Linked DNA regions of Homo sapiens. The protein of the gene in region 2 interacts with the protein of the main gene of each other region in a biochemical or structural test. Each region holds a gene or a part of one and is shown on either strand. Other genes may lie near its edges. The genes, in order: ROCK1, LIMK2 and NF1.

What was found.
Region 1: of the proteins of LIMK2 (region 2) and ROCK1, one has a biochemical effect on the other in vitro, tested with the Homo sapiens proteins (2 studies listed by BioGRID).
Region 3: the proteins of LIMK2 (region 2) and NF1 form a complex in vitro, tested with the Homo sapiens proteins (one study listed by BioGRID).

Annotation. Positions count from the first base shown.
Region 1 is NC_000018.10:21,105,067-21,108,818, forward strand, and holds part of ROCK1 (rho-associated protein kinase 1), read right to left. Parts: intron 1-3,752. UniProt on the Homo sapiens protein: Protein kinase which is a key regulator of the actin cytoskeleton and cell polarity.
Region 2 is NC_000022.11:31,257,192-31,260,943, reverse strand, and holds part of LIMK2 (LIM domain kinase 2), read right to left. Parts: intron 2,654-3,752; coding exon 2,518-2,653; intron 1,824-2,517; coding exon 1,714-1,823; intron 1,056-1,713; coding exon 867-1,055; intron 1-866. UniProt on the Homo sapiens protein: Serine/threonine-protein kinase that plays an essential role in the regulation of actin filament dynamics. Acts downstream of several Rho family GTPase signal transduction pathways.
Region 3 is NC_000017.11:31,097,885-31,101,636, reverse strand, and holds part of NF1 (neurofibromin), read right to left. Parts: intron 1-3,752. UniProt on the Homo sapiens protein: Stimulates the GTPase activity of Ras. NF1 shows greater affinity for Ras GAP, but lower specific activity. May be a regulator of Ras activity.

The DNA.
Region 1 (3,752 bases), on a different chromosome or scaffold from region 2:
ACAATATTACAAATGCTTACTAAATACCAAATGCTATGATAGTTGCTTTGACTATATTATTCAATTCTTACAACAATCTAGTACTTTTATCCCCTCTTATTTTTCTGAAGATGAAACAGCATTGAGAGGTTAAAATAACTCCCTAAAATATTTCAGCAAATACATGTCAGAGCCTAGATTTCAATCCAAGTTTAGGCCCTATACAAAGATTTGCTGAATGAATAAAAATGAATTAGGAGAGTAACTTGTTTTTTTAAAAGAAGTTCCTGCAACATACTAACATCCAAAAAAGTCTGGTCCAAACTAACCAGATATGCAATTGATACTAATAACACCTATTAACTCACAAACTAGGAACACTGGCAGAGATACAACTTTAAGGCTCAAAGATTTAATGACCTCAGGTCTTTTCATTCCAAGAGTAATATACCCCCAAAACAGATCAATTCAACTGGCAAGGCATACAGGGGATTAGACAGCAATAATCCAGATTCGAAAATGCTACCCAAAATCTGCTGTAATAACCCAATGTGTGGACTAACACTGTCAAAAAAGTTCACAACAAAAATTTCAGTTTAGCGACAGGGACAATAGTGGAATTAATGACAAAACAGATAAGTTTATGGGAGGAAGCTTGTTTTGGAATATGAGGGATTTGAGACTAACATGACATCCAAGTAGAAATGCTTACAAGGCAGTCAGATATTTAAGGTTTGAAACAAAAGACTAAAAATAAAGATTTGGGTATCATGTACATAGAGATAATAATAATTGAAGCTGTAAGAATGGATGAATTCTTCAAGAGAGTGAAGACAAAGATAAGTATGATAGGCCAAAGATTGAGGAAAAGAAAAAAAGAAGAATGAAAAGATGGGAAAGCACTAGGTCAAGAGAGCCCAGGAAGATAATTTAAAGGAAGAAAAACTCAAAGACTAACACCAGAAATTTCATTTACATTTATCTTCCACATTCTGAAAAACTCCCTAATAAGAAATAGTAGTGACAAACAGCACAGTGTTAGAACTCAACAGGCACTATTTGACTAATACTGGTTCCCTTCTGTCTCCTCCGCTCACCCGTTGCTACACCTCCACCAGCCAGAAGAGAAGTGGAAAGGTCATGTTCTTAACAGGCATCATGAAGCGATGTGCCAATAAATATGCTACAAGCAAGATATTTTCATGAAAAGTATGTCAAACTTCAAAACAAATGTATCTATAACCCTCCCAACCATTTTTGTTTTTCCTTTTTTTTGAGACAAGTTCTCACTGTGTCGTCCAGGCTGGAGTGCAGTGGCACAATCTCGGCTCACTGCAACCTCCCCGTCCTAGGCTCAAGCAATTCTCTGGCCTCAGCCCTCCAGGAGCGAGCCACTGCACCCGGCCTTGTTTTTCCTATTTAATTTACAAATCATAAGCATTTTTTCCTCTGCAAAGATTAAATAGACTTAACTAAACTCCATCCCTTATTCTGTTTTCAAAGGTACTCAAAATCACTGAGAAATTATTACAGGCCCTAGACAAAATAATTAGAAGATAAGGAAGTCCGGAAAAGAGAAATAGCTCCCGATAATCCTTATAAACTGTAACATGGACAGTAAGAAAGACAACCATTAGGACACTGGAAAGAATCTGACCTACAGAAAACCAAAGTTGACTAATTTGAATGCTCTAGGAAACAAGTGAATGGTTATCATAATGTATCTTAGTATTTGCAGACTATTTTAGCATTTATACATGATATGAAGATTGAACTTACTTAGTTCTTGAAAAAAATTACAGGTGTTCGAGAAAAGATTGGATAGCCACTTATCAGAGTTCTTCCAGCTACATTATTCTAAACTACTGCAGGTTGAGTATCCCTTGTTTAAAATGCTTGGAACTAGAAGTGTTTCAGACTGCAGACTTTTTCAGATTTTAAAATATTTGCATATACATAAGATACCCTGGGGATGGGGACCAAGTCTAAATAAGAAATTCATTTACGTCTCATACATACCTTATACACAACAACCTGAAGGTTATTTTTTGCAATATTTTAATAATTTTGTGCATGAAACAAAGTTCTGACTGCATTTTGACTGCAACCCATCTCACAAGGTCAGGTGGATTTTCCACTTATGGCGTCATGTCAGCACTCAAAAAGTTTCAGATTTTGAGCACTTCAAATTTCAGATTACGGATGCTATTCATCATTAGTGTCTCAACAAAAAAGCTGTTTAGTAGGTAAGGTAGTTTAAAAGGACATACACCAGCAAATTTCTGAAACCAAAAGATTTGGAAGTTTCCATTTCTAAGCATGAATCTAGTAAAGGAGGTAGAGAAGAAACAATTTGAAAACCTTATTTTTGGGATTACAAAAACAACTCTAGAACTAAAGGACTGCACGTGGCACATAATACACACTAATAAGTAAGTATCAGTTACACAAATCAACAAAAGTCAAAATAACAGAAAAAGGCAACCAATGTAAAAGGAGTTTTGTTCCTATAATACATGAGAGGTCCAAAGTCCAGATAGGGAAGAACAAGAACAGACTCACTGAAAAAGCTGAAGTCACCTGATAGGTCACCCTGAATGACACAATGAATGAATGAACGAACGAATGCTCAATGTTAAACATAAAACATCATGCGAAGAAAATTCATGCTAGATACTACAAACCCAGAAAAAGGATTTTTTGTCTCTAAAGGAAATTCAGTCTTGGGCCAGGCACGGTGGCTCACGCCTGTAATCCCAGTACTTCGGGAGGCCAAGGCAGGCGGATTCCTTGGGGTAAGGAGTACAAGACCAGCCTGGCCAACATGGTGAAACCCCATCTCTACTAAAACTACAAAAATTAGCCAGGCGTGGTAGTGCACGCGTGTAATCCCAACTACTCGTGGGGGCTGAGGCAGGAGAATCACTCGAACCCAGGAGTCGGAGGTTGCAGTGAGCCAAGATCGCGCCACTGCACTCCAGCCTGGGCAACAGAGTGAGATTCCATCTCAGAAAAAAAAAAAGGAAAATTCAGTCTTTACCAAGTTCAGATTGACGGGGTAATAAAATTTCAGTAACAGCTATCAATAAACAGCTGTGGAACTAAACAGAAAAAGAGGACAAGATTATAAGATTTGAAGGGGAAAAAACAACCAAATCTGTCTGTTGACTATTCTCTTTAACAAAATGTTGTTTTAGAAGTGTTGGGCTCCATGATACCTGGCTGTCCTAACTCTGGAGGCCTTGATGGCTTACCTCCTCCACTCTTCCTCTTTGTTCAACCTTCATCTTTCACCCTCATTTTTCCCTCCATTGTTTCTCCCTTTACCATTATATCAACTTGCACCTTTGTGCAAATGACTTCTAAATCATTATCTGTAATTATGAGCTCAGTTCTGTATCTCCAACAGTCTACAGGTCATTTTCTCATGATTGCTCCACTATCCCCTCAAACACAACGAATCTAAAATTGAATTTATCTGTAGGCCTATTCTTCACAAGCAATTTCCAAACCTGACTTTGCTATTTTTACCATTCTCCCTATAATCCAGGCTCAACCTCTTTAGAGTCATCTGACTATTGCCTCTCTCTTTGGTTCCCCATCTTTTCCCTGCCAATAAAGTTCCATTAATTCTTCTTTTCTCATTCTCATGCCCCAATTTTGGGCTTCAATCATTTCTGGACTATTACAATAATAACAATTTTAAAAAACTGTCCAATCTCACTGTCTCTCCAATCTTTTCCCATGCTAACCCATCTTCCACACACCAGATT
Region 2 (3,752 bases):
TGGTCACAACACCTTGCTGCTTAAACTCTCAATGGATCTGCTGGATTTTCATAATCCAGGCCCTCTATACTTAACAGCCCCTTTTCTGGCCACACTCAACCTACATCAGACATGATTAAGACTCCTACTTTTGGAGAAATGCTTCTCCCTCTGCCCTGAACACAATTCCCTCTCCTCTTCATCTAATAAGGTTGTAGAACAGACCTTAGCTCCTCCTGACTTCCCAAACTCTAGTATCTTTCACCTGCTGTGCAAGCACTAGCCTAGTGTCCAACACATGGTAGATACACAATCAATATTTACATGGTAAGCGGCCAGAGGTACGACATTACTGGTATTAGATAGACACAGACTCTTTCTCCATCTGGTCTCTGGCCTGAATCTAGGATAGGGTCTTAACTTCTTTTGGGCCATGGACCACATTTTCTCCATTCATTCTCTCGACTGACAAAATAATAATCAATCAACTCCTACTATATGCCAGGTACTCTTCCAAGCCCTGGGCATGCAGCACTGAATAAGACAGCAAGTTTCTTCTGGAATTTACATTCTAGTGGAGGGGATAGAAGATAAACAACTAATACACATAATCAAGCCAGATGATTTCAAAGAGCAAACATGACCTGAAACCTGACACCTGAAAGGTGAGTGATTCTTGCCTTAAGTATCGGGTAGGAAGTAGCCTGGGCAGAGAGAACAGTAAGTGCCAAGGCCCAGGTACGGTTACAGCATAGTGGGGTCCAGGAGAAAGATATGAGATGAGAATAAAGGGAGTTCTGCATGAGACTTTGGAGGTCTAAGCCCTCTGAGGCCCATTTACAGACTCTGCTCAAGAACCCCTGCTGAAGGGTTCTCAAAATACTTACTCTTTCACTTGCACAGTGGTGGCGTAGTTGGAGCAGGCACTCTCCACGGACACGGAGAAGCCCCGCCTGCCTTCAGTGGTGGCCGGCATGGAGATGAGCGTGACAGAGTAGGGCAGCTGCTCCTGAACAGACTCTGTGGAGAGTCTCTCAAACATGGGTGCCAGCACCACCTCATTGTGGCACTTCCCACTGGGGAGAGGGCACAGGGGGGAATAAGATGCTAGAGTCCCACACAGAAGCCCCCCAGCAACCACTGCACCATGTGGCTTTAAGCAACAGTACCCATAGTCTCACTACCACCCTCTTTGTCATGATTCTAGCTGGCTGCTCAGAATGAGGAGCCTGGGTTCTCAGGGTGGGCTGGGACTGGGGGTGCTGAGCTAGATCTGCAGCAAGTGGTATATTTGGAAAAACACTGGCCTGGGTTGGGGTGAGATGGTCTGGGTTCTCTTCACTCTACCTTTGACTCACAATGAGAACCTTGCCCTTGTACTATTCTATTCCATGGGCCCCAGGCTGACTTCTTTTATCAACCAAGGTGGTTGGACAGGGTGAGCTCTAAGGGGTCTTTGACTTTAATGTTCTGGGATCGTCCTTGAAGAGTGCCTCCCACTGGGAGGATTGCAGGGCAGAGTGAAGACATTTTCAAGGTTGGTAAGGAAAAAGGGTAGAGACATGTGTAAATCATTCTGCTTACAAGTTAAAGAGCTGGTTAAGAGCACTGCTGTGGTAAGAATCCAATGCTCTGACTACCCTAACACTCCTTCTGCCCAACTCACCCTGCCACTGTCCCTCCCCGCCAGCCACTCTTATATGGGAGAGGATAGACAAAGGACCACTATCTTACCAGTAGAGGGTGGCATGCTGCACCAGTGCATATGCATCCCCATCCTCAATGATCACCTTGCAGCTCATACAGGCAAAGCACTCTGGGTGGTACTTGAACTCCCCAGCCACCTGTGAGCAGGTGGGGAGAAGGGTGTACAAAGGGAGGAAGGAAGTGAGTTATCACTGTTGCTGGAGTGAGGACAGGGGTGGGTGAATGACCTCCAAGCAAGGCCCCCGTCAAAATCCACTCTTTCACTCTCTGCCCTAGAGCTTCCAAAGGAAGTGTCAGATTGGTACCTCCTGTCATTTCTGAGACTGCACAAAACTGTTTTGGTCTCAGTTATGAGAAGAAATCCCCAGAAGTAATCATCCCCACTAAAAAAGATCAGTTCTTCCAATACAGGGTTGGCAAGTCTGTCACTATGCTTAAAGTCGTTTGTCCAGAGCAGGTATAGGAGGTAGCCCCTCTCTCTGCCAGCCTATTCCAGAGTCTCCTTTTCTGATTCCCTAAAGACAACCTAAGTATATCCTCCTCTCAGCCTGTAACACTCTCCTTGGAGGTCCTTATCCAACTATATTGTGTCTCCTCTCTGCCTGCCTCTCCTCCCACTCCCAACGTTCAACTATTAAGTCTTTGAGGGAAGGATCTTACCTTTCACTTAGTAGGTGCTCAATTGATACCTGCTAGTTGAATGAATGAATAAATAAAGGGAGATGCCCTGGCTGATGGAAAGACTAAAAGATTAACAGGCCACAGGGAACTGGAAGCACTGTCAATGGACTCTGAAGACCAAGAGGGGCAGATATGAAGGGATTCACTCACCATAAAAGGCCCTGTCATCAGCAGGGAGCACCCATGACAGAACTCCCCAAACTTCCCCCAGTAGTCCTTGGGGCAGTAGAGCTTCCCATCCTTCTCATAGTACCAGTTGGTGAGGGAATCCTGGCATTCTGAACACCTGAAAGGCAAGACAAGAACTGAAATTCTCCTGGATCCCTGGAACCAGGCCACATAAGCTGTCCCTGGTTCCTAGGTATGACAACAAAATGGACAGTCCTCTTTGATCCAAAGCCAAGATGGGGCAAAGTTACAGCCTTGTGCTATCTCCCCAAGGGAAGCTGGTTCAGACTGAACAAGGCCCCAGAAACCAGCTCTGTGTTGCCTGCCTCAGTGGACAGACTAGTGTTTCATAACCTCTTTGGGTCTTGGGGCCCTCTGAGAATTTGATAAAAGCCAAGAAGCCTCCCCTAGAAAAATGAATATATAAAGAAGATGTGTATATAATTTAGGTGGGGGACAGGGTGTATATATAAAGGATTCTCTGAAACCTATTTATGGCACCAGTTAAGGATCTCTGGTCTTGACAGATACTTCAATGAACAAAAGCAGTTTAATCATCTCCACTCTTCAAAACTGACCCATCACCAACAGCGTTACCAATGTAATGTTCTTGCCAAAAATACGTTAAGTATAAAAAAACTAATCAGGCAAATCTAGAATGTGGGTTATTCTATAAGAATAACCGGTCTTGACTCTTCTAAAAAGTCATGGGGAGAAGAAAAGGCACAGATTTTAAAAACCCTAGAGACACAGCAACCAAATACAATGCCTCAAACTTGGATTCAAATTTAGATTAAAAAAGGAAACAGCCATGAACATTTTTTGGAACAACTGAGGAAATATGGATTTGGACTATAATATTATATTGTAAAATTGCCGTGAATTTTCTTAGATGTAATGATATCTGACTTATATAGGAGAATTCTTAGCAGAAACATATTGAACTGTTCAAGGGTAAAATCAAGATGCCTTTAAGTTACTCTGAAATAGTTCAGCAAAAATAAATAAATAAAAGTATACAGATAGAGGGAGAGAGATATATACAAAGTGGCATAACATTAACAAATCATGAATCTATGTGAAAGGTATGTAGGTGTTCTTTGAACTACATTTTCAACTTTTCTATATATTTGAATTTTTTTTCAAAATAAAATATTGGGGAAGAAACCCAACATTCTATTAGCACTGTGTAAGATGTACATGTTAGATCCATAGCT
Region 3 (3,752 bases), on a different chromosome or scaffold from region 2:
CTGGCAGAAATAAAGGCCAAGAAGTGGGAAGAAGCATGATACACACAGAAGAGACTGAGGTGACCTGCCTGGAACATAGGTGCATGCAGAGGCATAATGGGAAAGAGTTTGGTAAATCAAGTGGGGTCAGCTCCCAATAGACTGCTGGGTCACAGAGACATGCTGTTAGAATATTAAAATCATCGAATATTTAAACTTGAAAGAATCTAAAAGATTTTCTAGCCATTTCTTTTTCAACAGATGAGGAAATCAAGGATCTATAGGAAAGCTAATGGCTAGGATAGGGACAAAGGCACTGAATAGCAGAACAAAACTAAGACCCCCGCTAAGGAACTCCAATTCAGTAGAAAAGTATTGTGTCTTGGGAACTGGAAGAGATTGGTTTCCGGGGGGAGTGGAACATCACAGTGGCATTACAACTAAGCAATGACCACTATGTTTTGCCAGAAGTAATCACTTTCAAGAAAACAGCAATCAAGCAGAGGCAGGAGCTACTTTTCAGAGTTATAAAGGAAATGGGTGGATAAACAGTAGAGGCGGTGAGTATCTGGCAACAACAACAACAAAAAAGACTGGTCCACAGAGAGAGAGCTGCAGGACCAAGTAAACGTCTGATTTCCAAGAGAAAGGAAATCTTAGCCTGAAAAGTGAAAAGAAAGCAGCCAACATAAAGACTAAATTAGTTCCCAGACAGATAAGGTGGAAAGTGTAAGGGAGTGCAGAGAACTGAGGAACAGCTGGAAGAAATCTTTCTAAAGGATGAATTCCGGGCCGGGCACGGTGGCTCATGCCTGTAATCCCAGCACTTTGGGAAGTCAAGGCAGGTGGATCACGACATCAAGAAATTCAGACCCATCCTGGCTAGCACGGTGAAACCCTGTCTCTACTAAAAATACAAAATTAGCTGGGCGTGGTGGCATGCGCCTGTAGTCCCAGCTACTTGGGAGGCTGAGGCAGGAGAATCGCTTGAACCCAGGAGGCAGACGTTGCAGTGAGCTGAGATCGCGCCACTGCACTCCAGCCTGGGCGACAGAGTGAGACTCCATCTCAAAATAAATAAATAAATAAAAATTTAAAATAACAATAATAATAAATTAAAAAATTCCGAAGCAAAGAATAAGCATTATTGTGCTCGATTCAGCACCACATATACTAAAATTGGAAGAATAAGCATTATTTCTCACTCACCATAAAGAATTCGTCACCATAAAAGAGTACTCATTTTCAACTACTATAAGGCCTTATAAAAATTACACACCAGGCTTGAAGAATGAGGCTAGGAGATATTTTTTAAATCCAAAAAGCTTCAGTTTTGCAAATCTATTTGTCTAATCAGTATGTGGTTTGTAATTTCGAAGATACTTGCCAATCATTTTATACTGTGAATCACTCACCGCATATTCAACGTACATTCAGATGAACACTCAATGTATGAGAACAACAAATATGCTACTACAACCTCTAAAATCAGAGTTTATTCCATAACATATTCTTTAAATTGGGTTTTTTGGCTTTTATGTACTACTTTTGCTTGATCAGATATGGAAAATATAATTGCTTTAAATGAACATATTTACAACAAATCATTTTGGGATGGAGTTCTTTTTAATTCTTTTTTTTTTTTTTTTAGTTCAAATATCCATAGTTTTCCCATACTTCCCTTCAGAAATAAAGCTCTACAGGAACCAGTGGGGCATACAGAACTAGGGGAGATACACAGAAGGTTCTAATTTGCTTAGAAACTGGGTTAATGAACCACAATTAAAAGCTACACATGGCCGGGCGTGGTGGCTCACGCCTGTAATCCCAGCACTTTGGGAGGCCAAGGCAGGTGGATCACCTGAAGCCAGGAGTTGGAGACCAGCCTGGCCAACACGGTGAAACCCCCGTCTCTACTAAAAATACAAAAATTAGGCAGGCGTGGTGGTGGGCGCCTGTAATCCCAGCTACTTGGGAGGCTGAGGCAGGAGAATGGCTTGAACCCAGGAGGCAGAGGTTGCAGTATGCTGAGATCTCCCCATTGCACTCCAGCCTAGGAGACAAGAGCGAAACTCTGTCTCAAAAAAAAAAAAAAAAAAGCTACACACCTACAATTTGTCAGTTTCAATTAGAAACTTGCTATTTGGCACCACGAAGGCAGGTTAAGGAGAGATGTAAGATTTAACTGATAACATTCAGCTTTCTGGCTGTCCACCTGTGCAACTGTCATTTCCCTAACCAAGGAGGTGATTACTTCTAAAATTGGTAATACTCATTCAACTTAGACCCTAAATACTAGGTTTAGCTGCAATATTATCAGGTTAAGGAATTTTATATTACCCACAAGAATGTGAGCTCAAAATGTCAATATGGCACACATCCACTTCTTTTAACTGAGTCTACTGCACTAAGTTGCTAAGCGATACCCATCAGAGTGCAATATGTCTGTAATCAGCAGTGGCTAGAAATGCATTTCTGCTTTAATCACACCGAATATTAGAAATCCAACCAAAACAGCAATCATAAACAGAGTTGCCATCTTTAGACATGCACATGCTCCCTGGGGGCGTTAAGTGGTCCAACAGGCAAACTCTTAGCTGTAATAAGAAGGAAAGCTTAACTCCCCCTGGGCCCAGTAAAGCAAAGTACAGATAATATAATCCAAAATTCAAAAGTTTTATAAACAGTTGAAACTATTAAGATTCTTTTTTTTTTTTTTTTTTTCTGAGATGGAGTCTCGCTCTGTCACCCAGGCTGGAGTGCAGTGGCGCAATCTCGGCTCACCGCAAGCTCCACCTCCCAGGTTCAGGCCATTCTCCTGCCTCAGCCTCCCAAGTAGCTGGGACTACAGGCACCCACCACCACACCCAGCTAATTTTTGTATTTTTAGTAGAGATGGGGTTTCACTGTGTTAGCCAGGATGGTCTCGATCTCCTGACCTCATGATCGGCCCGCCTCGGCCTCCCAAAGTGCTGGGATCACAGGCGTGAGCCGCCGCGCCCGGCCAACTCTTAAGATTCTTATACAACTATCTCTCAGTACATGCAGGGCTTTTTCTCCCCTCAATAAAAATGTAAGCGATGGCTCACGCCTGTAATCTCAGCACTCTACTAAAAATAACAAATGTTATCCAGGAGTGGTGGCAGGCGCCTGTAATCCCAGCCACTTGGGAGGCTGAGGCAGGAGAATCACTTGAACCCAGGAGGCAGAGGTTGCAGTAAGCCAAGGTCGCATCATTGCACTCCAGCCTAGGCAAGAATCATGAAACTCCGTCTCAAAAATAAAAAAAATAAAATAAAGTCTTCTAAATATATTTAATGGATTAGAACAAATTTTATGGGATACTTAGGAAAAGTATCTCCCTGATGGTCAAGCATTCACTACTTTTCATACTGAAGCTCTTATTAGATCTATGTCACTTAACCTTCCCATGCCTCAGTTTTCTGACTAAAAGACATTTTCAACCGTAAGGTGAACTCTAATTTGAATTAAACATTTATCACTTATATAATAAATTAATATATTAATTTATTTTATATATATACTATATATAATATATATAAGTACCTTATGTTAAACACTGAAAACCCTTACATTTTTGTATCTCAAGGTCAGAGACTTTAACTTTCTAAGAGAAAAATGTGAGGAATAGGCCAGGCACAGTGGCTCATGCCTGTAATCCCAGCACTTCGGGAGGCCGAGCAGGGGGTGGGGGGCAGATCACCTGAGGTCAGGAGTTCAAGACCAGCCTGACCAACATGGTGAAACCCCCG